Linked DNA regions of Homo sapiens. The protein of the gene in region 1 purifies or fractionates together with the protein of each later gene. This does not show direct contact. Each region holds a gene or a part of one and is shown in the gene's direction. Other genes may lie near its edges.

Region 1 (7,965 bases):
GCAGGGCTTCTGGGGCGTTGGGAAACCCAGGCCCGCCGGCCACGGCTCTAAAATGAAGAGGGCGGAGACCCCAGTGAAGAGCACCCCCCGCAATCCGCGCAGATCCCTCCCAGAGAAGGCCCTGAGCCCAGGCGGCAGCCACCCGCCCCCCTTCCGAGGCTGTGTCTCTGTTTAGAACTGAACACGAGGGTGGGGAGTGGGGGATGCTGGACCACAGGGCAGCACCTGCCCGGCAGGATGCGCGTGCCTGTGAGCCCCGGGACTCCCCAGGGTCCTGGGCACTGGGGCTGTGGATCCTCGGAGGAACTCAGAGTGGTTCCCCTGAATTTCCCGGCCCTGGCGACGAGGTGCTGGTCCCAGAGACAGGTGCAGGCACAGGCAGTGCCACAAAGACCGGCCCGGGAGCGGGGCAGGGGCCAGGGCTCAGCCGCTCCCGAACAGCTCCACAGCTTTCGCTGCAGGAGGTTTGGTTCTGATGGAAGGATGTTTTCTACAGAGAGATGGCACAACTGCTCACAAGACCAGGGTTCTAGCCGGAGCCCAGGTCGAGCTCAGCTCCACGACCCCTGCTGGTCAGCCCCTGATGCCTCGTGAAGGAGAGGAGTCTCACTTGCCAAAGGAGGCTGGAGTGGTTGGGGGTACACACACCCTTGGTTGCCTTGGAGACCGTGTTGGGTGTGGTGCCAGAGGGCAGCTGTGGGTACCCCTCTTTGTCATTCACAGGGAGGGACAGAGCCTCCCTGCCTGGCAGGACGTGATCCCTGGCTGCCAGGGGCTCAGCGGGTAAAGGGGGTGCACTCGCCGGGACCAGCCGATGCCTGGGGCACCCAGGAAACGCAGCTACTCTGCAGCATGCTCAGCCTGGAGGAGTTGCAGGAAGAGTGAATTTTCAGTGAGAGTCGGCCGTGAAGAATGGCAGGAGCTCTGCTGAGTCAGAGTCAGCCAGGGACGTCTGCAGGCCACCTTCCCTCCCCCTCAACCCAGGGACCTCCGCAGGCCACCCTCCCTCCCCCCTCAGCCCAGGGACCTCCGCAGGCCACCTTCCCTCCCCCCTCAGCCCAGGGACCTCCGCAGGCCACCTTCCCTCCCCCCTCAGCCCAGGAACCTCCGCAGGCCACCTTCCCTCCCCCCTCAGCCCAGGGACCTCCGCAGGCCACCTTCCCTCCCCCCTCAGCCCAGGGACCTCCGCAGGCCACCCTCCCTCCCCCCTCAGCCCAGGGACCTCCGCAGGCCACCCTCCCTCCCCCCTCAGCCCAGGGACCTCCGCAGGCCACCCTCCCTCCCCCCTCAGCCCAGGGACCTCCGCAGGCCACCCTCCCCCCTCAGCCCAGGAACCTCCGCAGGCCACCCTCCCTCCCCCCTCAGCCCAGGAACCTCCGCAGGCCACCCTCCCTCCCCCCTCAGCCCAGGGACCTCCGCAGGCCACCCTCCCCCCTCAGCCCAGGAACCTCCGCAGGCCACCCTCCCTCCCCCCTCAGCCCAGGAACCTCCGCAGGCCACCTTCCCTCCCCCCTCAGCCCAGGGACCTCCGCAGGCCACCCTCCCCCCTCAGCCCAGGAACCTCCGCAGGCCACCCTCCCTCCCCCCTCAGCCCAGGAACCTCCGCAGGCCACCCTCCCTCCCCCCTCAGCCCAGGAACCTCCGCAGGCCACCCTCCCTCCCCCCTCAGCCCAGGAACCTCCGCAGACCACCTTCCCTCCCCCCTCAGCCCAGGGACCTCCTCCCTCCCCCCTCAGCCCAAGGGACCTAGGCAGGCCACCCTCCCCCCTCAGCCCAGGAACCTCCGCAGGCCACCTTCCCTCCCCCCTCAGCCCAGGGACCTCCGCAGGCCACCTTCCCTCCCCCCTCAGCCCAGGGACCTCCGCAGGCCACCCTCCCTCCCCCCTCAGCCCAGGGACCTCCGCAGGCCACCCTCCCCCCTCAGCCCAGGGACCTCCGCAGGCCACCCTCCCCCCTCAGCCCAGGAACCTCCGCAGGCCACCCTCCCCCCTCAGCCCAGGAACCTCCGCAGGCCACCTTCCCTCCCCCCTCAGCCCAGGGACCTCCGCAGGCCACCTTCCCTCCCCCCTCAGCCCAGGGAACCTCCGCAGGCCACCTTCCCTCCCCCCTCAGCCCAGGGACCTCCGCAGGCCACCCTCCCTCCCCCCTCAGCCCAGGGACCTCTGCAGGCCACCCTCCCTCCCCCTCAGCCCAGGGACCTCCGCAGGCCACCCTCCCTCCCCCCTCAGCCCAGGGACCTCTGCAGGCCACCCTCCCTCCCCCCTCAGCCCAGGGACCTCCGCAGGCCACCCTCCCCCCTCAGCCCAGGAACCTCCGCAGGCCACCTTCCCTCCCCCCTCAGCCCAGGGACCTCCGCAGGCCACCTTCCCTCCCCCCTCAGCCCAGGGACCTCCGCAGGCCACCCTCCCCCCTCAGCCCAGGAACCTCCGCAGGCCACCCTCCCTCCCCCCTCAGCCCAGGAACCTCCGCAGGCCACCTTCCCTCCCCCCTCAGCCCAGGGACCTCCGCAGGCCACCCTCCCCCCTCAGCCCAGGAACCTCCGCAGGCCACCCTCCCTCCCCCCTCAGCCCAGGGACCTCCGCAGGCCACCTTCCCTCCCCCCTCAGCCCAGGGACCTCCGCAGGCCACCTTCCCTCCCCCCTCAGCCCAGGGACCTCCGCAGGCCACCTTCCCTCCCCCCTCAGCCCAGGAACCTCCGCAGGCCACCTTCCCTCCCCCCTCAGCCCAGGGACCTCCGCAGGCCACCCTCCCCCCTCAGCCCAGGAACCTCCGCAGGCCACCCTCCCCCCTCAGCCCAGGAACCTCCGCAGGCCACCCTCCCTCCCCCCTCAGCCCAGGAACCTCCGCAGGCCACCCTCCCTCCCCCCTCAGCCCAGGAACCTCCGCAGGCCACCTTCCCTCCCCCCTCAGCCCAGGGACCTCCGCAGGCCACCTTCCCTCCCCCCTCAGCCCAGGAACCTCCGCAGGCCACCCTCCCTCCCCCCTCAGCCCAGGAACCTCCGCAGGCCACCTTCCCTCCCCCCTCAGCCCAGGAACCTCCGCAGGCCACCTTCCCTCCCGCCTCAGCCCAGGGACCTCCGCAGGCCACCTTCCCTCCCCCCTCAGCCCAGGAACCTCCGCAGGCCAGCTTCCCTCCCCCCTCACGCCAGGGACCCGGGAAGAGCACCTTCCCTCCCCCCTCAGCCCAGGGACCTCCGCAGGCCACCCTCCCTCCCCCCTCAGCCCAGGGACCTCCGCAGGCCACCTTCCCTCCCCCTCAACCCAGGGACCTCCGCAGGCCACCCTCCCTCCCCCCTCAGCCCAGGGACCTCCGCAGGCCACCTTCCCTCCCCCCTCAGCCCAGGGACCTCTGCAGGCCACCTTCCCTCCCTCCCCCCTCAGCCCAGGGACCTCTGCAGGCCACCCTCCCTCCCTCCCCCCTCAGCCCAGGGACCTCCGCAGGCCACCCTCCCTCCCCCCTCAGCCCAGGGACCTCTGCAGGCCACCTTCCCTCCCCCCTCAGCCCAGGGACCTCTGCAGGCCACCTTCCCTCCCCCCTCAGCCCAGGGACCTCCGCAGGCCACCCTCCCTCCCCCCTCAGCCCAGGGACCTCCGCAGGCCACCCTCCCTCCCCCCTCAGCCCAGGGACCTCTGCAGGCCACCTTCCCTCCCTCCCCCCTCAGCCCAGGGACCTCTGCAGGCCACCCTCCCTCCCTCCCCCCTCAGCCCAGGGACCTCCGCAGGCCACCCTCCCTCCCCCCTCAGCCCAGGGACCTCTGCAGGCCACCTTCCCTCCCCCCTCAGCCCAGGGACCTCTGCAGGCCACTCTCCCCTCTTAGCCCAGGGACCTCGGCAGGCCACCCTCCCTCCCTCCCTCCCTCCCCCCTCAGCCCAGGAAAGGCACAGGAGAGGATCCTGCCAGGTAAAGGGAAAGTGGCCCGGGAGGAGCCCACGTGCCAACAACAGGAGTCCCAGAAGACAGAAAAGACCACAGATGAGAAAGCAGTTCACGCAGAGAACAAAACGTTCCCGGACCAAACCCAGGGTCGGGTTGCTCATTCCCGAGGCCCGATAGCGAGATGCAGATGAACTGGGGAAGAAGAGGGATTTTATTTCTGTAACTGGTTACAGGGAGAAGGCCTGGAAATGATCGCCAGACCAACTCCAGATTACAGTTTTTCCAGAGCTTACACACCTTCTAAGCTCTGTGTCTCCGTGTCAGTGTGCATTCGTCTAAAGACGTACGTGATTCAATTCTTCTCATCTCTAACTGAGGTCTGGTCCTGAAGATCTTCCTCTGAAGACTCAGTAAATTTACTTGATCTAAATGGGCCCAGGTGTTTACCCTTATCTTGTCTTCTGCTAAATCATGGAGGTTTGGGGAGTTCCTTCTCCACTTGTTTGTGGAGGCCTGGGGAGTTTTTTCAGACCCCCAGTAAAACTTGTTTAATCCTAAACGGGTCCTGGTCTCGTCATGCTTCAAGGCCCAAGAAAGCCCTGGGCAAAACTCTTGATGGGCTTTTGTTACGTCCCAGCCCTCGTGTGAGGGCGCTGGCTCTCAGCTTTCAGGATTTCACTTCACCCTCAGTCAGTGCTGAACAGTTGTCGCGGAGGCCTGCGTGAGTGAGGCCTGGCGTGCCCTGGAAACATTCCCCTGAGTTGAAGAAAGACTCACAGTTTTCAGCATCCAGTTACCCTCTGAGCATCAGGCAGAACCCGCCGGCCCCAAAACCAGGCCCCCTTGGCACATGTGGGCCCGAGTGAGTCCAGCATGAGGAGGTGCCGCTTCTGAGCAGAGCTCAGGTTGTCTCTGGGAGGAGGAGCGAGCGTTGGGTGCGGTGGCCGCTGCGTTGGCAGCCCTGTCCCTGAGCGGAACGCAGGTCGTCTCTGGGAGGAGGAGCGAGGGTTGGACGCAGTGGCCGCTGCGGTGGCAGCCCTGTCCCCAGGCGTGGACTCTGCCCTCAGCTTCACAGTCACCGAAGAAATGAAGTTACAGGAGGGGCACACCGTCCTTTTGTCTCTGCCTTTGAGGTTGGCGGGAACTGAAACTGGTACGGTCTTTTTGAATAGAAATTTGGGGTCTTTCTGGCGACGTAAAACTGTGTGTAGTTTGCAGTAGAGAGTGTTGAGAACAGCCTGTCCGGGCTGTGCATTGAGAAGGGGCGGTTAAAATGCTGCCACGTCGTGCAGCCCATAAAAGGGGGACACAGAGTAGCCGAAACTGCTCTTGGGGGAGGGGGCACGTCCCAGCCTTCCGTGTGATGCTGGGGTCAGCGTGGCCCCTCGGCTGCCAGAGCTCACGAAGACGGTTAAGGAAAGCTTCCCCCGGGTGGCTTTCACCCCACGGGGACAGAGCCCCAGATGGGCCCAGGGACCTCTGAGCAGCCGTGGGCCATGGGGTGACAGTTGGGGGTTGGTGGGACCCGTGGCTGTCATATACCCTGGGTAGACGGTGGCTTGTCCAGGCAGAGATGCCCAGGGGAAGTGGGTGGCACCTGAGGGCAGATCTGACTTTTCAAGAGAAGCTGAAAACACGGGTTTTTCTGTGAAATCTCTAGATTGAAAACAGTGGGCTTGAAAAGCCTGGAGCAGAGGGAGTGAGGCCTGCCCCCCACCCCAGCTCTGCGGGCACACCCTGGCCAGACAGCCCTGCTCCAGACCCGGCCTGTGTCTCAGGGTGGCCCAGGAGGGGACTTTGCAAGGTGACGTGGGGCTTGGAGGTCCCGTTTCCCTGTAAGCCTGGGTACTTAGGGGATGGCCCTGGTCAGACTCCACCAGTCCCAGACTTGGGGGACACGAGAAGGGAGATGGGCCACCCAGTTCTGGTTGGGCTGGGGTGGGGCTTCTGAGGGGTGGGGAGGTTGTCCCTTCCCACCCACCTGCCCCTGCCCCAGGATTCTCGGCTGTGAGCAGGAGGATGTGTACGATGGCCAAGTTGCCTGGACTGGGTCCGCCCCTCCTGGGGCTGTGAGTGCACAGGACACTGGGCCCACAGGCACCTCTGGGGCTCTGTCCCCGTGGGGTGAAAGCCACTTGGGGGAAGCTTTCCTTAACCGTCTTCACGAGCTCTGGCGGCCGAGGGGCCACGGGGGGCATTCAGATGAGTCAGAAGGAGCTGGGGCCCACCCCTCCTGCTTCCTCGCCGCCCCCCTCCCAGCTGCCCCCAGTAAATCCCCTCAGGCCCCTAGGACCTGGAGGGACGCGGCAGGTTTATCATCTCAGCCTGGAAACCACGTGACCTACCTGTTTCCCACCACAGCGCCCCAGGTTTCAGAAGCAGCTGAGGATGCCCTTCGCAGGGGAGGGAGGGACAGTGAGAAAGGAGGGTGTTCAGGGCCCAGGGATCCCCCACGGAGGCTGCCCCATCAGAACATACCGGGCACCTGTGGCCTCCTCTGAGATTCTGGCCTGGGCAGTGGTCATTTGAGCATTGGTTACCAAGGCTGCCTCTGAAATGGCAGGCTGGGGGCAGGCCAGCGTGAAAGGGACTGGCAGGAGTCCTGCGGGGACAGGCTGGGGGCAGGCCAGCGTGAAAGGGACTGGCAGGAGTCCTGCGGGGACAGGCTGGGGGCAGGCCAGCGTGAATGGGACTGGCAGGAGTCCTGCGGGGACAGGCTGGGGGCAGGCCAGCGTGAATGGGACTGGCAGGAGTCCTGCACGGCAGCTGTGCTGGGGAGGGGTCACCCTGGGCCCTGAGAGGCACAGGACATTGCGATGGGGTGCTGGCCTGCCAGGAGCACAGATACAGAGCTAGAGCCCAGTGAGGCCTGTGCTGTGAGGGGCTGTGCTGTGCCAGGGGAGGCCCCGCACCCGGGAAGCCCAGAGGAGAGTGTGCACTCACGGAGCCCTCCTGGCAGGGCCGCGTCTCTGGAGCAGCAGACCCGTGTCCCTCTGGGAGGTCAACTGCGGCCTCACAGCTGGGCCTGTCCCAGCACAGCCCTTGTTGGAGGGCGCACCCCCGTGTCCTCAGCACCCCAGTGTTGAGTGCCTTGACCTGCAGAGGGGAGCCTGTGCTGGTCCCGGGCGTCTGTGTGGCTCCTGGGTGCCCATCTGCACCCCTGGCCCTGCTCTGGGCTTCAGTGGAGCCGTGCCACCGTGGGAGTGTCCAGGGTCCTGACGTAGCCCTGAGACGTGGCCAGCTCCCTGGCCTGCTGCCCGCACAGTGGGCCCTTGTCTCTGCTCTGGGTCAGGCGAGGCAGCCACCCATGATGAGCTCTGCAGCCTTCCCAAGGTGGCTGGTGAGTCCCTGCCCTTTGCACCCCCAGCACCCTCACCCCTCTACCCGGGCGCCCGGGGTCAGGACCCGCTCCTGAGGTATCTGTCCAGCTGGCCGCCCCCTCTGTCTGGGGGTGCTGGACGAGTCCCACTCCTTGCCAACCCCAGGGTGGCTCCTCAGCTCTCAAACAAGGGGCGGGCTGCAGGGATTCCGAGGGCCCCTCCAGCAAGAGGTCCCACATGCATCTCCCAATGGGACACTTACCTGGCCCACAGGGTGGGTGTGACACTGAGGGTTCCTGGGGGCAGATTCAGGGCATGGGATGGAGACAGACTGGTTGTGAGGGGCCCAATGCAGGGGGCCGGCCCCAGCCCACAGGGTCGTTCTGCAGATGGGCTGGTCGGGGACGCTCTACCAGGTGAAGGGTCTGTGGTCGGAGTCTTCGCCCTGGCCAGGGCCCAGGACGCTCACGGTGCAGGCTGAGGGTCAGAGCCGCCGAGGGCCCCCTGCCGGGATTCTGTGCAAAGGGCCTCTGCACTTTATGTGGGTGCATGTGAATGCCCCTCGCCAAGATGTTCCTACCCTGCACCTGACACTTCCCACGACAAGAAGTGCTGACCCCAGAGGGTGTGCGCGGACCCCAGAGGGTGTGCGTGGACCCCAGAGGGTGTGTGCGGACCCCAGAGGGTGTGCGTGGAGGGCCTGGTCTGACCTCAAGGCTCTTGGGGCACCCACACAGGATGGGCTGTGAGGGGTTGGCGGGGGTGGGG
Region 2 (7,017 bases), on another chromosome or scaffold:
GGAGAAGAGTAGAAAACCAGGCTTCATTGTATATATAACCCTGTAAGAAACAGAACTTTGTGTTGAGGTCAATTTTAAGTATGTGCAATAACTAGGTAAGAATTTTTCTAGTGGACAAATTCACAGCACACTCAGAACTACAACCTAAGATTATATTTTATAGCAATAGCTTCATTAATGAGTGGAGGGAAATTTCTTTTTATTGGAAGTAATGGTCTGATTTAATGACTGAAACAAGCTAACATGTGTCTCAGCTTTTTCTGATTTTGACTGCTTTCTTCTGTAACAGAAAACACATTTCCTTGTGGCACCTTTTAGAAAACACTGAGTTATTCAACAGATCATTTGTGTGTGTGTTTGTGTGTGTGTGTATAGTTATTTCTTAAGAAATAATTTTGGATGTTTAGAAATTTCAAAAATAAGAGATTCTCATATAGCTTTCACCCAGTTTCCCCCATTGATAGTGTCTTAACTAGTCCAATGATTACCTCTTAAGTAGTCTGTGGTATAATTTTCAAAATCAGGGTATTAACACCAACAGATACTTTTTAAGGACTGAAGTATATCTAGTTGGTATTTAAGGTATTTAAGCATCTGCTTCACACTTTATTTGAAAGATGTATGTGTTTCTTTTAGGACTGACTCCAATAGATTTTGAGGCTGAGGTTTATATGTAGCTGAAAGCTTTAAAAAATATATAATCACTTTAAATGTAGTATCTTACTTAATTCTAACAGCCCTGCATAACAGGCAGCCCCTTAGTATTCCTCCCATTTTGCAGGCTCAGAAAAGTTAAGCTCAAGATTATCCCTCAGTTCTCATTGTCTAGGACTAAAATCTAGGTCTTCTCAGTTGGGTCCAGTTATTCTGTTAACCCGTTGTCTACTTGTTGCATACTGCTTGTTGTTGCATTTTCTAACAATGGAAACAGTCTTTGCCGACATGAGTATCTAGTAGTTATTTGATATTATAGTGAATGAGCAGGGAGGTTAGATTACTCATCTCTCAGTAGTTCATCTGCCATCTCCAGGTGTTAAAAGTTTTTCTGAGATTAAAGATCAAGGCTTTTTAGTGTTACAGTTACCATGTTTTTTCTAAACTCAACACCTTAGATATTCAAGATGATACTCTTCCTGTCCTGTTTTTGTAAGAAATTAATATACTTGTCAGATTCCTGTGTATTGCAAGCTGGAGACTGTAGATAAGGGCAAGTCACTTAACCTATCTGACCCAGCTTGCTTATCTACAAAATAGAGATTAAAACCTCTGTTCTCATCCTTCCTGGGAGTCAGCATTAGGATTAATTAAATCCATATTTCCCAGGCTCTTAACTTACCATGGCACGCATTTTTTGTTTTACCTGGCTACTAGTGAAAATGTACAAAGATAGAAGGATATCTAGTAGAAGGAAGGTGGATAGGATTTTCAAAACAATATATTTGGCCCTGAAAAAAAACTATGTGTTGGTGTTGTGTGTGTTGTTTTGTTTTGAGGAGGAATGGGCAGGGAGAAAGTCGGTTTACAAGTGAAGAGAAAGCGTAGAAAAACAGTGGATGTTAGTTTCTCAGCTATTTTGACAAAAGGGATGTAGAGAGCAGTATTGGGAGGAACATTTAGATTAGTACTAATGTGTCCTAATACATACTGATGGGGAAATTTTGAATTGGGTTTTTTGAAAACTGTAGCTCTTTTGTCCAACACAGTAGCTGCTAGCCACATGTTACCTGTTGAGCACTTGAAATATGACTAGTCTGCATTGAGATGATGTGCTATGTGAAATATATGCTACAGTTTGAAGAGTTAGTATGAAAAAAAGAATATAAAATATCTTCATTTTTTTTGTTGGTTTTTTTTTTTTTTTAAGAGAGAGTCTTGCTGTGTCACCCAGGCTGGAATGCAGTGGCACTGTCATGGCTCAGTGTAGCCTCAACCTCCTGGACTCAAGCAGTCCTCTACCCCAACCTTCCGAGTAGCTGGTACTGCAGGCATGTGCCACCACGCCCAGCTAATTATTATTATTTTTTTTTCATAGAGATGGGCTCTCACTATGTTGCCCAGGCTGGTCTCACACTTCTGGCCTCAAGCAATCCTCCTACTTGGCCTCCCAAAGTGCTGGGATTATAGGTGTGAGCCCCCATGCCCGGCCTCTGTTGGTTTCAAGTCAATATGATACTATATTTGATATATCAGGTTAAATAAAATGTATTATTAAACTGCATTTCACCTGATTCTTTTTAGTAATGTAGTTACTAGGAAGTTTTAAATTATATATGTGACTCACATTTGAGGCTGTCATTATATTTTCATTGGATAGTCAACAGAGCTGCTCCTATAGCTACTAGGTTGTCTAGTTATTTTCTAATTATTTGTGTGCCAAGATCTTGATGCCTTTGGTCTTTGGAGCAATCTTGGCAGTACCCCGAGCCCCTGGGCCAGTAGCCTCTCTCGCTGCAAGCAGCTCTGTTTACTCCAGTGTGCCCTACAAATACTATTATTTGCTAGGTGTATGGGATGTGGGCATTGAACTTTAGATCATCAAGTGTAGTACTTTAAACATTTAGAAATTACTTACTGTTATTGCCTATTAAAATAATCTTACTTTTTTGATGGGAGAGTATGGAGTGGCATGGATGATTATTTATATTTTCAGGCTATTTATACTCTGAAAGATACTAAGTACTTTAGAAAAAGTCACATTTTTAACATTTATTAAAATCTTAGTTACAAAAGATTTCTTAGGCATCCTTTAAAAAATTTCATTTTTAGAATTGTTCGTACTGTCTCTGCAACTTTTCTGAAAACATAAAAGTTCTGTATACTTTTCATCTAGTTTCTGTTATCAACATGAAGAATCTGCTTTTAATCTAATTTTGTATAGCATATCAAAAGTTTACACTTTATTGAGTTATTTTGCTCAAAAGAAATCCCCAGATTTTACATTATGGTAACTGACTCAGTTTTTAGAAATGTGAATTTTGTTATTGACCTATATACCAGAAAGACACTTATTGCATACCTGAAATTCAGTAACCTAAACTGTTTGCTAAGATGTTCCATATACATGGTCACAAAGTTTACATATTCTCGACATAATTGAAACATGTTGATTAATTACTTCTGCCTTTTTTTACTTCATAGATGTAAAGAACCTATATCCATCATCATCTCCTTATACAAGAAATTGGGATAAATTGGTTGGTGAGATCAAAGAAGAAGAAAAGAATGAAAAGTTGGAGGGAGATGCAGCTTTAAACAGATTATTTCAGCAGATCTATTCAGATGGTTCTGATGAAGTGAAACGTGCCATGAACAAATCCTTTGTAAGAATATAAACTTAAAGAAATATATATGGGAGCAAATTTTACATATTTTAAACGAGAAAATTGGTAATGTGAGACCAAATTGCGTGTACTATAGCTGGGAGAACTTTTTGAATAAGGTCTGTCTGAACGTTTCTTTTTGCTCTAAGAGTAATTTTTGAGGAAGTTGAAAACTTATGGAAGAGATGAGAAACAAGTGGTTTATCTTAAATAGGTATTTTTTATCAGTGAGTTAGATTGATATGGAGTCATCTCACTTGGATTTATCCCAGTAGCTGAGTGAACTTCTGTTGTTTCCCTTCTAGACTCATATGTAGCCTCAGTGTTAGAGATGAAGAATATAGATACGAAACTTTTCAGAATAGTGTTTGCAAGTAGAAGGTGCACGTTATTCATTGGTTTAACAACTCTCTTGATTAAGAAAATTCAGGCTTTTTGTCAGGGCAGCATAAATACCTAAATTAGACCTCAAAATTTTAGTAATAATTCGTCATTGTATATTTAGCTTGCAGTTGTAATCATGTGACTTTTATTAATACCAGTAGCTCTGGAAATATGACTCTTTTAAGACATATTTACAGTAGAAAGTTAAAATTAGTATTTTAATTTAATATTTAGTTAATGTGGTTGAGGCTTAGGTATTTCACACTTAAGAAATCTGTGGTAATTGGTCATGATTGTGCTTTTCACAGTTTATTTATTTAGAGACAAGGTCTCACTCTGTTGCCCAGGCTTGAGTACAGTGGCGTGATCTCGGCTCACTGCAGCCTCTGTCTGCCGGGCTCAAGTGATTTTCCTACCTCAGCCTCTGCAGTAGCTGGGACTATAGACATGCACCACCACGCCTGGCTACTTTATTTCTTGTAGAGGTGGGGTTGCGCCACGTTGCCCAGGCTGGTCTCGAACTCCTGGCTTCAAGCAATCTAGCCGCCTCAGCCTCCCAAAGTGCTGGGATTACAGGCGTGAGGCACCTCAACCAGCCTCACTATTGATTAAAAAATTTTTTTTCATCACTTTTGGGAGACTGAGGTGGGAGGATCACTTGAGCTAAAGATCTTGAGATTAGCCTGGGCAACATAGAGAGACCCTATCTCTACAAAAAAAAAAAAAAAATTAGCTAGGCCTGGTGGCATGTGTCTGTGGTCTTAGCTACTTGGGAAGGTGAGGTGGGAGGATCTCTTGAGCCTGGGTGGTCAAGGTTGCAGTGAGCTGTTTTTTTGTGCCACTGAACTACAGCCTGGGCAACAGAGACCCTGTCTCAAAAAAAAAAAAAAAGTCTTCATTAAACTTTTAGTTTTGAGATAATTGTAGATTGACATGCAATCCTAAGAAATGAGATTCTTTGTACCTTTTACAAAGTTTCCATTGATGGAAACATTTTGTCAAAACTATGCTACAACATCACAACCATGATACTGACAGTTAAGATAGGGAACCTTTAATCCCAGTGCTTTGGGAGTCTGAGGCCACAGGATCCCTTGAGGCTAGACCAGCCTGGACAATATGGTAAGTTCTGGTCTCTACAAGAAATTTAAAAGCTACCTTGGCATGATGTTGTGCCCCTGTCAGCTCAGGCGTCTGCGGCAAGAGTATTGTTTGAGCCCAGGAGTTCAAGGTTGCAGTGAGCTATGATCGTGCCACTACACTTAGCTTGGGCAGCAAAGTGAGACCCTATCTCTTTAAAAAAAAAAAAAAGAGAGAGAGAGAGATAGAACATTTTCATGGATTCCAAGGATCCCTTATGTTGCTATCTTATGGCCATACTAACCCCACCCCCACCCTTCCATGATCCCTGATGATCACAAATCTGGCAATCTTTGTCAGATATGTAGTTTACACATATTTTCTCCCAGTATGTAGTTTTCATTTTCTTAATAGGGTCTTTCATAGAACCAAAATATTTCATTTTGATTAAGTCTAATTTACCGCTTTTTATGGATCATGCTTTTAGTTTCAGGTCTTATTAACTCTTTGCCTAGTCCTAGATCTCAAAGACTCTCTCCTATTTAAAAAATAAATAAAAGTAATATTGTTTTACATATTACATTTATTTTTTATTTAGAGACAGGGTCTCATTCTGTCACCCAGGCTGAAGTACAGTGGCACAGTCACAGTTCACTGTAACCTCAAAGTCCTGGGCTCAAGTGATCCTTATGCCTCAGCCTCCCAAGTAGATGGGACTACACATCCATGCTGCCATGCCTGGCTAATTTTTAAAATTTTTTGTAGAGGTGGGGGTGTCTCCGTATTGCTTAGGGTGGTCTCGAACTTCTGACCTCAAGCAGTCCTTCGGCCTTGGCTTCCTGAAGTGCTAGAGTTACAGGCGTGAGCCACAGCACCTGGCCTACATATTACATTTAAGTCTGTGATGCATTTTGAATTTTTATGTCAAGTGTGAGATTTAACTTGAGGTTCCTTTTTGTGGGGTGGATAGTATGTTCGGGTGTTCTGGCACCTATCTTTTCTCATTGAATTGCTTTTGCACCTTTCTTAAAAATCAGTTGAGCGTATTTGTGTGAGTCTATTTCTAAGTTCCCCACTGTGTTAGATTGAGCTGTATGTGATCTATATGTATGTTCCTCTGTCAGTCCCACTGTCTTAAGCTGTAGCTGTTTAAGTCTGAAATTGGGCAGACTCATTCCTCCTACTTTATCCTTTATTTTCACAATTGTTTTTAGATATTCTAACTCATTTGTCTTTCCATGTAAATTTTAGAATAAAGTGATTATATATAATTTTGGTGTTCATTACTAGAATCTAGACATACAGTTAATTTTATGTTTATCTTGTATTCTGTGACATTGCTGGACTCAGTTCTAGGAGTATTTTTGGATAGATTGTCATTTTTTTAATGTGGACAATCATCTTCAAATATGGAGGTTTTATTTATCTGCAGATACGGAGAGTTTTATTTCTCCCTTTTCTATCTGTATGCCTTTTATCTCCTTTTCTTGCTATATTTCACTGGCTGCAACTTCCGCACTGTGTTGAATAAGAGTAGTGAGAGTGGACATCCTTGCCTTGTTTCCCATTTTAAGGGAAAAGTATCTGTTGTTTCATCATTAAGTATAATGTTAACTGTAAATTTTTGGTAGATGATCTTTGTCAAGTTATGAAAGTTCTGTTGTATTCCTATTTTTCTGAAATTTTTTTATCATTAACTTTCAATATTAACTTTTTGTCAGATGTTTTGTCTGTGTTGATTGATAGGATTATATGATTTTTCTTCCTTAGCCTGTTAATATGGTGATTTTATATGATTAATATGATTGATTTTCAAGTATTGAGACAGTCTTGCATGAGCCCTACTTTGTCATATAGTGTATCTCTTAATTCTATCTTCTAATGTTTTGTTATGGGTTATTGTGTCTATATTCATGAGGAATATGAGTCTAATTTTCTTTTTGTGCTATCTTTGGTTTGGCATCAGAGTAATACTTCATAAAATGAATTAGGAAGCATTGCATCCTCTTCTGTTTTTTAGAAGATATTGTGTATAATTGGTGTTAACTTTTCTTAAGTATTTGGTAGAACTCACCAGTGAAACGGTCTGGGCCTGGAGATTTCTTTATTAGGAGATTTACAGTTATGAATTTAGTTAACCTAAAAGTTTTTATAGGACTGTTCCAATTATCTATTTCATATGGGTGACTTGTGGTTTGTTTCTGATAAATTTATCCATTTTGTCCAAGTTGTC
Region 3 (7,995 bases), on another chromosome or scaffold:
CGGGATGGCACCTTCCTCATCCGCGAGAGCAGCCAGCGGGGCTGCTACGCCTGCTCCGTGGTGTGAGTGGACCGCAGCGGTGGGGATTCCCGCGTCCCTCCCAGAGCTCTCATTGAATGCCTGCCGCGTGCCAGGCCTTGGGAAGGAGTCCCTGGTGGGGTCATCCGGGACAGGGGAGCACGCGGCCCTGGAACGGGGAAAGCTTGGCGGGGAGGCCAGCCTTCCGACTCCCCCTCTCGTCTGCCCCCACAGAGTGGACGGCGACACCAAGCACTGCGTCATCTACCGCACGGCCACCGGCTTCGGCTTCGCGGAGCCCTACAACCTGTACGGGTCGCTGAAGGAGCTGGTGCTGCACTACCAGCACGCCTCGCTGGTGCAGCACAACGACGCGCTCACCGTCACCCTGGCGCACCCAGTGCGCGCCCCGGGCCCCGGCCCGCCGCCTGCCGCCCGCTGAGCACCGAGGACCCGCCCCAAGCAGAGCCGCCCCTGGGCCCGTCTGCGCCGGAGGCTGCGGCGGCGGGAGCCACGGACCAGACCAGCCACATCCAGGGGTCCTCATTTCTCCGGCTCTGGCTCTTGTTTGGGGTTCTCTCACCCTCTTTCTCTTTCCTTCCCTCCCCCATTCTCCAGATCTCCCTCTGTCTCCTTTTCTCTGTCTTTCTTGGCCCCTGTCTCTCTCCATGTTGGGGGTCCTAACTCCCCCACCCCATATCTACGTGTCCTCCGGGCATTGCCCTCTCCATGGCTCTGGTCACCCTGACCCTCTGCCCTGCCCACCGCAGGTCCCCCGGGGTCCCGGAAGCCCCTTCTGGCTGCACCTGCCATGTTTACAGAGGGCCCCTGGGCTGCGCGGCCCCAGCCTGGGCACCCTGATTTTTAAGCCATAGACCTGGGGTCAGGGCAGGAAGGAACTTCACTCTGCTGCTTCCGAGAACCTCGGCCGTGACATTCGGGGCCGGGCGGGACCCGCCCCACAGACTCCAACTTCCCCTCCAAACCCCGAAGTGAAACCCGCCACCGGGTTACCCCCACAAGGGGGCCGCTGCGAGAAGTTCACCCACCCCCGAAAAAATAATTAAACTCGCAGGCCAGGCACGGTGGCTCATGCCTGTAATCCCAGCACTTTGGGAGGCCAAGACGGGCGGATCTTTTGAGGTCGGGAGTTGGAGGCCAGCCTGGCCAAAATGGCAAAACCCCGCATCTACTAAAATACAAAAATTAGCCGGGCGTGGTGGCGGCCGCCTGTAATCCCAGCTACTTGGGAGGCTGAGGCGTGAGAATCTCTTGAACCCAGGAGATGGAGGTTGCAGTGAGCAGAGATCGTGCCACTGCACTCCAGCCTGGGTAACAGAGGGAGACTCCTCCGTCTCAAAAAAATAAATAAATAAACTTGTGAGCTGGCCCCAACCCCTCCTAGGAATCACAGCTCCCCGTACTGGTGCCGCCGCAGTGGCCAAGTTGCGACACTGCCCACGGCCCCTCCCTCTGATGCAGATTCAGGGCTTCTCTTCGATCATGTTGGGTTTTGATTCTGTTTTTCCTTGACTGCAAAACCCTCTTTCCTCTCCTCTTTTGGGACAAGAGCCCTGGTTTTCTACGCTGCCCTTGGCCACCACACTGCCTGCCCCACGAGCTGGGAGGCAGGTTTTGTACGGTACGTTGTTATTGATATGATATAAAACATCAAACGTCGTGGGTGATTCTGTTGTCAGTGACTGGGCTTCAGTACCACCTCTGCGTGTCGGGGACCCTGGTGTCTACGGGGGTCACAGCAGGTCGGACCCGTGGGTTTAACTCCAAGCCCCTCTGAGACCCGACAACCCCTCCCTCCCCCAGTTTAGCTGCTCAAGCCTGGAGAGGTTGAGGCAGTGCCCAAGGTCATACAGGAGAGAGATTCGAATCCTGAGCTCCCGACTGCTCAGGGGACCCCAGACCCCATCCAGCCCCTCAAGTGCTTCCAAGCTGCTTCCCCCGCCCACCGCCCCCAAATTTGAATCCTGTCGCAACCATCAGCTGTGTCCTTGGGAAAGTTGTATCCCCTCCCTGATCCACAGCTTCCTCATTCATTGCCAAGTGGCGTCAAAAGTCAAAACCCTCCCATGCCACAGGGAGGAGTCTCCCGTGTCTTTGATGTTCTCAAGTCGTCGGCACCTCCAGCCAGCATTGGAGGCTCTTCTCTGACCTCTCCTCACCCACTCCCATGCACAGCCCGCCGGGTCCCAGGAGACGCTGAGCAAAAGCCCTGTGGGGTTTTTTGTGTTTCTTTTTAAAGAGTCAAGGTCTCTCACTCTGTCACCCAGGCTGGAGTGCAGTTGTGCGAACACAGCTCGCGGCTCACAGCCTCAAGCTCCTGGTTCCCAGCCTCAAGCAGTCCTCTCATCTCAGCCTTTAGAGTCACTGGATTACGGGTGTGTGTCACCATGTCCAGCTAATTATTTTTAAATTTTTTTAGAAACAAGATCTTGCCGAGTGCAGTGGCTCACACCTGTAATTCCAGCACTTGGGGAAGCCAAGGCAGGCAGATCACTTGAGGTCAGGAGTTTGAGACCAGCCTGGCCAACATGGTAAAACCTGGTCTCCACTAAAAATACAAAAAAAAATTAGCCAGACATGGTGGCGCATGCCTGTAATCCCAGCTACTTGGGAGGCTGAGATAGGAAGATCAGATGAACCTGGGAGGTCAACGCTGCACCAAGCCAAGATCGTGCCACTGTTCTCCAGCCTGGGTGACAGAGTGAGACTCTGTCTCAAGAAAAAAAAAAAAAAAAAGGGTCTTGCCCTTTTCCAGGTGGGTCTCAAACTCCTGGCCTCTAGTGATCCTCCCACCTCAGCCTCCCTGAGTCGCGTAAGCCACCACGCGTGGCCTCATGGCGTCTTTGACTTGGACTCCTGTTTACCACCCTCCCCATCACACCCAGAATCCACACCCCCACTGCGACGTCATTGTCCCTTCAGCCCTCCCCAACCCTGGGGCCTCACTGTCCTTGTCTGTTTTGTACAGCCACCTCTCAAGGCCCAACAAGGCTGAACCTGGGGCAAGTGCAGAAAGAAACCTCCACTCTGACCCAGTCTACTGCTGGGACCTTGGGACAGGACCTGCCTCCCTTAGCCTCAGAGCCCCCTAGCCTTGCCAGGCACTGTCCCTGCCATGTGTCCTGTCTGGAGATAACCCATAAATAACTCCAGCCCAGATTGTGCCTCTCACTGCATAGGTGCTCACAGGAGAAAGGTTGCCATCTTTATGATCCCAGCTATGCTGAGCTGGGGGTGGAAGAGAATATCCCGTGTGGTCTCTAAAAACACTCAACCACTGGCTGTGTGTCCTTGGCAAAATAGCCTTCCCTCTCTGATCAGCCATTTATTTGTTACCAGCTGGAGTCAGTAGCACCTACCCCCAGCCCCAACTGGATGCTTCTGAGGGTTCAATGATAAAATGGGTTGTAGGCCCACTCTATGCCTGGCACCAAGCCAGAGAGCAATACATTGTAGGGTTACATTTATGATTTCTTCCAATAGGGCTGGTGCCTGGTAACTACTGGAAAAATTGTAGCAATTATATTTATGGTTATTTCTTCAATCCCACCCGGCATAGGGTAAGCACCAAAGTTGGGGTGGTGAGTCTTGGGGAGCCTTTGCCAACGGTTTGGTCGTCTGAGGGATGGGCTCGGGGACCATCCAGCCACTGGGACTTCAGAGAAGCTCCGGCTCCCAAACCAGCTACTGTGTGTGTGGCCAGGGTCTTCCCCACAACTAGAGGGGGGCACAGCTGGGGACTCAGGTATATCTTCCAGCTGGGTGTGGGACATTTTCTTCCCTAGGATCCGATGTGTCTTGCCCTGAATGTAAGGCCTGGCAGGGTTGGAATGTCTCAGTTATTCCCCCAACACTCCAGCCTCCATCTGGGCCTTTTTTCCAGGCTATTCTCTCTGCCTTCACTGTTGGGGCCACTGTCCTGTGTAGGCACCAAGGCCTGACCATGCCATCCAGAAGCCCCAGCCTGGGACAACTCTCCCCCACCTGCCTCTGAGCCCTCCATGGTGACTCTTGTTCCCCAAACCTTATCCTTCTCCCCATTACACAGAAGGGAAAGCTGAGGCTCTGTCACTCAAATCCAAAGCCAGGTGGACTCCAAGCCACCCCACCCCTATCCCAGACAGCACAGGCTGCCTCTCTCCCCCATGGGCGTCCCTTGAAGGCCAGGTTGCCCCCCACCCCCCACAAGCCTTGAACGATGAAAAGAAGGAAGGCCAGTTCTCTTCACCCCAAGCCAGAAGTGGGGCTGGGTGGGTACCCTAGAGAAATGACACGCCACTCCCTGCGCCAGCTTCTGCTTTCCGGCGTGGCTGTGGTCAAGCCTGAGTCAGTCCCACGGGACCACGGTGAGGGGTCTGGAGCGTCGGGGTCAGGAGTTTGAGGGGGGAAGGGTTGAGGGGCAGGATGTGGGGGTTGGGTGTGAGGGAGGTCACGGGCGAGACTGGAGGGAGGAGACCTGGCCACACAGGCCTTGCCCACTCTCGGGGGCCTGAATATTTCAGTTACTCCCCCAAAACCCCGGCCTCCATCCCATCCCCAGCCTCCATCCGACGTCACCCCTGTTAGGTCACAGGCCCACTCTGAGAGTGGGTCTCGGGCCTCAAGTCCCCTAGCCGCCCCTAGAAGGTCTAGGGGTGCGTGGAGACACCACCATTCCTCTCAGCCTGTGTCTGTCTCAAAGGCCCCACCTCACCTCCCCTAAAGGTAGTCTTGCGCCAGGGCTCACGTGCCTGGGCAGGGCTGATTGCCAAGGGGCCCAATGGCCTCGTGACTGGGGACCCAGCACCTGGCAGGGGTGGGGGTGGGACACTCAGAGGAAGGAGTGGAGGAGGGAGAGACGCTGGCCCGGGACCCGAGGGGCGTGGGCATCGGGAGGCGGGCCCGGGTTAGGGGCGGGACCGCCGCCTGGTTAAAGGCGCTTATTTCCCAGGCAGCCGCTGCAGTCGCCACACCTTTGCCCCTGCTGCGATGACCCTGTCGCCACTTCTGCTGTTCCTGCCACCGCTGCTGCTGCTGCTGGACGTCCCCACGGCGGCGGTGCAGGCGTCCCCTCTGCAAGCGTTAGACTTCTTTGGGAATGGGCCACCAGTTAACTACAAGGTAGGGACGGCGACAGGGCGGGCAGGCTGGAGGGAACAGGCGCCCTGTCGGGGCACGCGGCTCCTTCTTTCTCCCCAGACTTCACAGGGGAAGACCAGGGCCCCGAGGGGACGCTGTCCCTGCCGGGTTCCTGGAAAAACCCTGTTCAGTTCCCGGCGCTGCGGCCACACTCCCTCCGTGCCGTTTCGCTTTCGCATCCCGCATCTGAGAGGCGCAGCTGCCTCCACCCGCCTAGTCCCGCCCAAGGGTTCAATGAGCGCCTACTGTGTACTTTTGGGGCAGGAGCTGGGGTCTCCTTTTGTGGCCCAGGGCACAAGTTCAGCAGCTGGCCAAGGGCCGCCGGCATGCATTCTTGCTGCTACCCTTGATGCATTCATTCCAGCCAGGGCAGGGCTCGCGTGTCTTTGGGACCTATTAGGCAGATGCCCTAGAGGCTGAGCGACTTGCTCACCGCTCCAGCGACATGGGCCACCCGCCACCCCTCAGCTGAAGCCGGAAGTCAGCACCTATTAGGTGCCGCCTCTATTCAGTCGGACTTGGAAAGGGTTCACGTGGATCCCTTGCTCAGCTCAGAGGCAAGGTCTCCAGGTGAAGTGACAAGAAATGAGCATGGGCCAAGGCCGGAGGCGGTGGCTCATGCCTGTAATCCCAACACTTTGGAAGTCTGAGGCAGGCAGATCACGAGGTCAGGAGTTCGAGACCATTCTGGCCTACATGGAGAAACCCTGTCTCTACTAAAAATACAAAAATTAGCTGGGTGTGGTGGCATGTGCCTATAATCCCAGCTACTCAGGAGGCTGAGGCAGGACAATTGCTTGAACCAGGGAGTCGGGTGTTGCAGTGAGCCGAGATCGTGCCGCAGCACACCAGCCTAGCGACAGTGAGACTCCATCTCAAAAAAAAAAAAAAAAGTCTCAAAGTCAAGATTCCACCTGGCAAGTTCTGGAAGGCGTGCAAGATGAATTGCGTATCACAGCCCCCTTTCTACAAGACTACCAAGTGGGGTTGAGAGAAGTGGGGAACTGCCCAGGGCTACACCTGCCTCCCACGCCTTCCTAATCCACAGACAGGCAATCTATACCTGCGGGGGCCCCTGAAGAAGTCCAATGCACCGCTTGTCAATGTGACCCTCTACTATGAAGCACTGTGCGGTGGCTGCCGAGCCTTCCTGATCCGGGAGCTCTTCCCAACATGGCTGTTGGTCATGGAGATCCTCAATGTCACGCTGGTGCCCTACGGAAACGCACAGGTGTGTGGGCGCTGGGGAAACTGAGGCACGTGGGCAGGGGAGCAGGGGACCCAGCCTACCAGCAGGCTCTCACCCTGCTGCCTTGCAGGAACAAAATGTCAGTGGCAGGTGGGAGTTCAAGTGCCAGCATGGAGAAGAGGAGTGCAAATTCAACAAGGTGGAGGTGAGCGGCCCCAGGGCCCCACACTGGGGTGGGGGAAAACTGTCCCACGTACAGGAGGCAAATACGAGGATGCCAGCTCTGTCTTCTGCCTCGTGTGCTCCCATTTAATCACATCTTTATTCCCTATCTCCTGGGTGGGTACTGGTGATTATTACGAGAGGGTGTCAGGGTACCCTAGGCCCTCTTCATGCCCTCTCCTGCCCCCTCTCCAAACCCCAGGCCTGCGTGTTGGATGAACTTGACATGGAGCTAGCCTTCCTGACCATTGTCTGCATGGAAGAGTTTGAGGACATGGAGAGAAGTCTGCCACTAGTGAGTGACGCCCCTCACTCCACCCAAGGAGGGGGACATGGGTGGTAACCTTCCCTGCATCCAGGCAGACCCAAATTCAAGTCCTAGCCCTGACCACTGCTGTCTGTGCAGCCCAGGAAAACAACTACCCTTCTTTATTTTATTTATTTTTTTATTTTTTCTTGAGACAGAGTCTCGCTCTGTCGCCCAGGCTGGAATGCAGTGGCGCAATCCCAGCTCACTGCAACCTCCACCTCCAGGGTTCAAGTGATTCTCCAGCCTCAGCCTCCTGAGTAGCTGGGATTACAGTTGTGTGCCACCATGCCCAGCTAATTTTTGTGTTTTTAGTAGAGACAGGGTTTCACCATGTTGGTCAGGCTTGTCTTGAACTCCTGACCTTGTGATCCGCCTGCCTTGGCCTCCCAAAGTGCTGGGATTACAGGCGTGAGCCACCGCACCCAGCCCTTTTTTTTTTTTTTTTTTTTTTTTTTTTTTTGAGACAGGGTTTTGCTCTGTCGCCCAGGCTGGAGTGCAGTGGTGCAATCTTGGCTGACTGCAACCACTGTCTCCTCAGTTTAAGTGATCCTCCTGCCTCAGCTTCCCCAGTAGCTGGGACTACAGGTGTGCACCACCATGCCCGGCTAATTTTTGTATTTTTAGTAGAGACAGTGTTCACCATGTTGGCCAGGCTGGTCTCAAACTCCTGACCTCAAGTTATCCGCCTGTCCCAGCCTCCCAAAGGATTACAGGTGTAAGCCACCACGCCCGGCCCCAGCCTCCCCTCTTGAAGCCTCCATCTCTGAATCAGGGGAATGAATGCAGGTCTCTTAGGAGCATGAGTGATCACAGAGGACTTACTGGAGGAGGCATTTCTGAGCTGGGCATGGAAGGATGAGCAGGAATGTGCAGAGACACAGATGATGGGATGTGGAGATGATAGGACAGACCCCACCTACTTCCCCGGGGGATTGTGAAGAATGACTCCCAGAGAAGTGACTCATTGGCTCCAATCATTTATTCATTCATCAAACATCCGGGTCACCCAAGAGGCCTCACCTAGTGACACCCTAGTCCTGCAGGGTTAGATCAGGGCTGAGAGAGTGGCAAGGAGAGGGCACTGAGGAGACACTGTGGAAGGAGGATGAAGGGTGTT

What was found. Proteins that work in one complex are often made in the same cells at the same time.
Region 2: the proteins of NEU4 (region 1) and SUGT1 purify together in Homo sapiens (affinity purification with mass spectrometry; 2 studies listed by BioGRID and IntAct, with this or other methods). This does not show direct contact.
Region 3: the proteins of NEU4 (region 1) and IFI30 purify together in Homo sapiens (affinity purification with mass spectrometry; 2 studies listed by BioGRID and IntAct, with this or other methods). This does not show direct contact.

The regions. Positions count from the first base shown.
Region 1 is NC_000002.12:241,804,245-241,812,209, forward strand, and holds the start of NEU4 (sialidase-4), read left to right. Parts: upstream 1-4,948; 5' UTR 4,949-5,030; exon of another isoform or gene 5,031-5,124; intron 5,125-6,222; exon of another isoform or gene 6,223-6,452; intron 6,453-7,151; exon of another isoform or gene 7,152-7,184; coding exon of another isoform or gene 7,185-7,217; intron 7,218-7,965. UniProt on the Homo sapiens protein: Exo-alpha-sialidase that catalyzes the hydrolytic cleavage of the terminal sialic acid (N-acetylneuraminic acid, Neu5Ac) of a glycan moiety in the catabolism of glycolipids, glycoproteins and oligosacharides.
Region 2 is NC_000013.11:52,676,836-52,683,852, forward strand, and holds part of SUGT1 (protein SGT1 homolog), read left to right. Parts: intron 1-3,138; coding exon 3,139-3,320; intron 3,321-7,017. UniProt on the Homo sapiens protein: May play a role in ubiquitination and subsequent proteasomal degradation of target proteins.
Region 3 is NC_000019.10:18,168,835-18,176,829, forward strand, and holds the start of IFI30 (gamma-interferon-inducible lysosomal thiol reductase preproprotein), read left to right. Parts: upstream 1-4,978; 5' UTR 4,979-5,007; coding exon 5,008-5,139; intron 5,140-6,205; coding exon 6,206-6,388; intron 6,389-6,476; coding exon 6,477-6,551; intron 6,552-6,770; coding exon 6,771-6,863; intron 6,864-7,995. Other genes in the region: PIK3R2 (phosphatidylinositol 3-kinase regulatory subunit beta), read left to right, coding at 1-62, 253-460. UniProt on the Homo sapiens protein: Lysosomal thiol reductase that can reduce protein disulfide bonds. May facilitate the complete unfolding of proteins destined for lysosomal degradation. Plays an important role in antigen processing.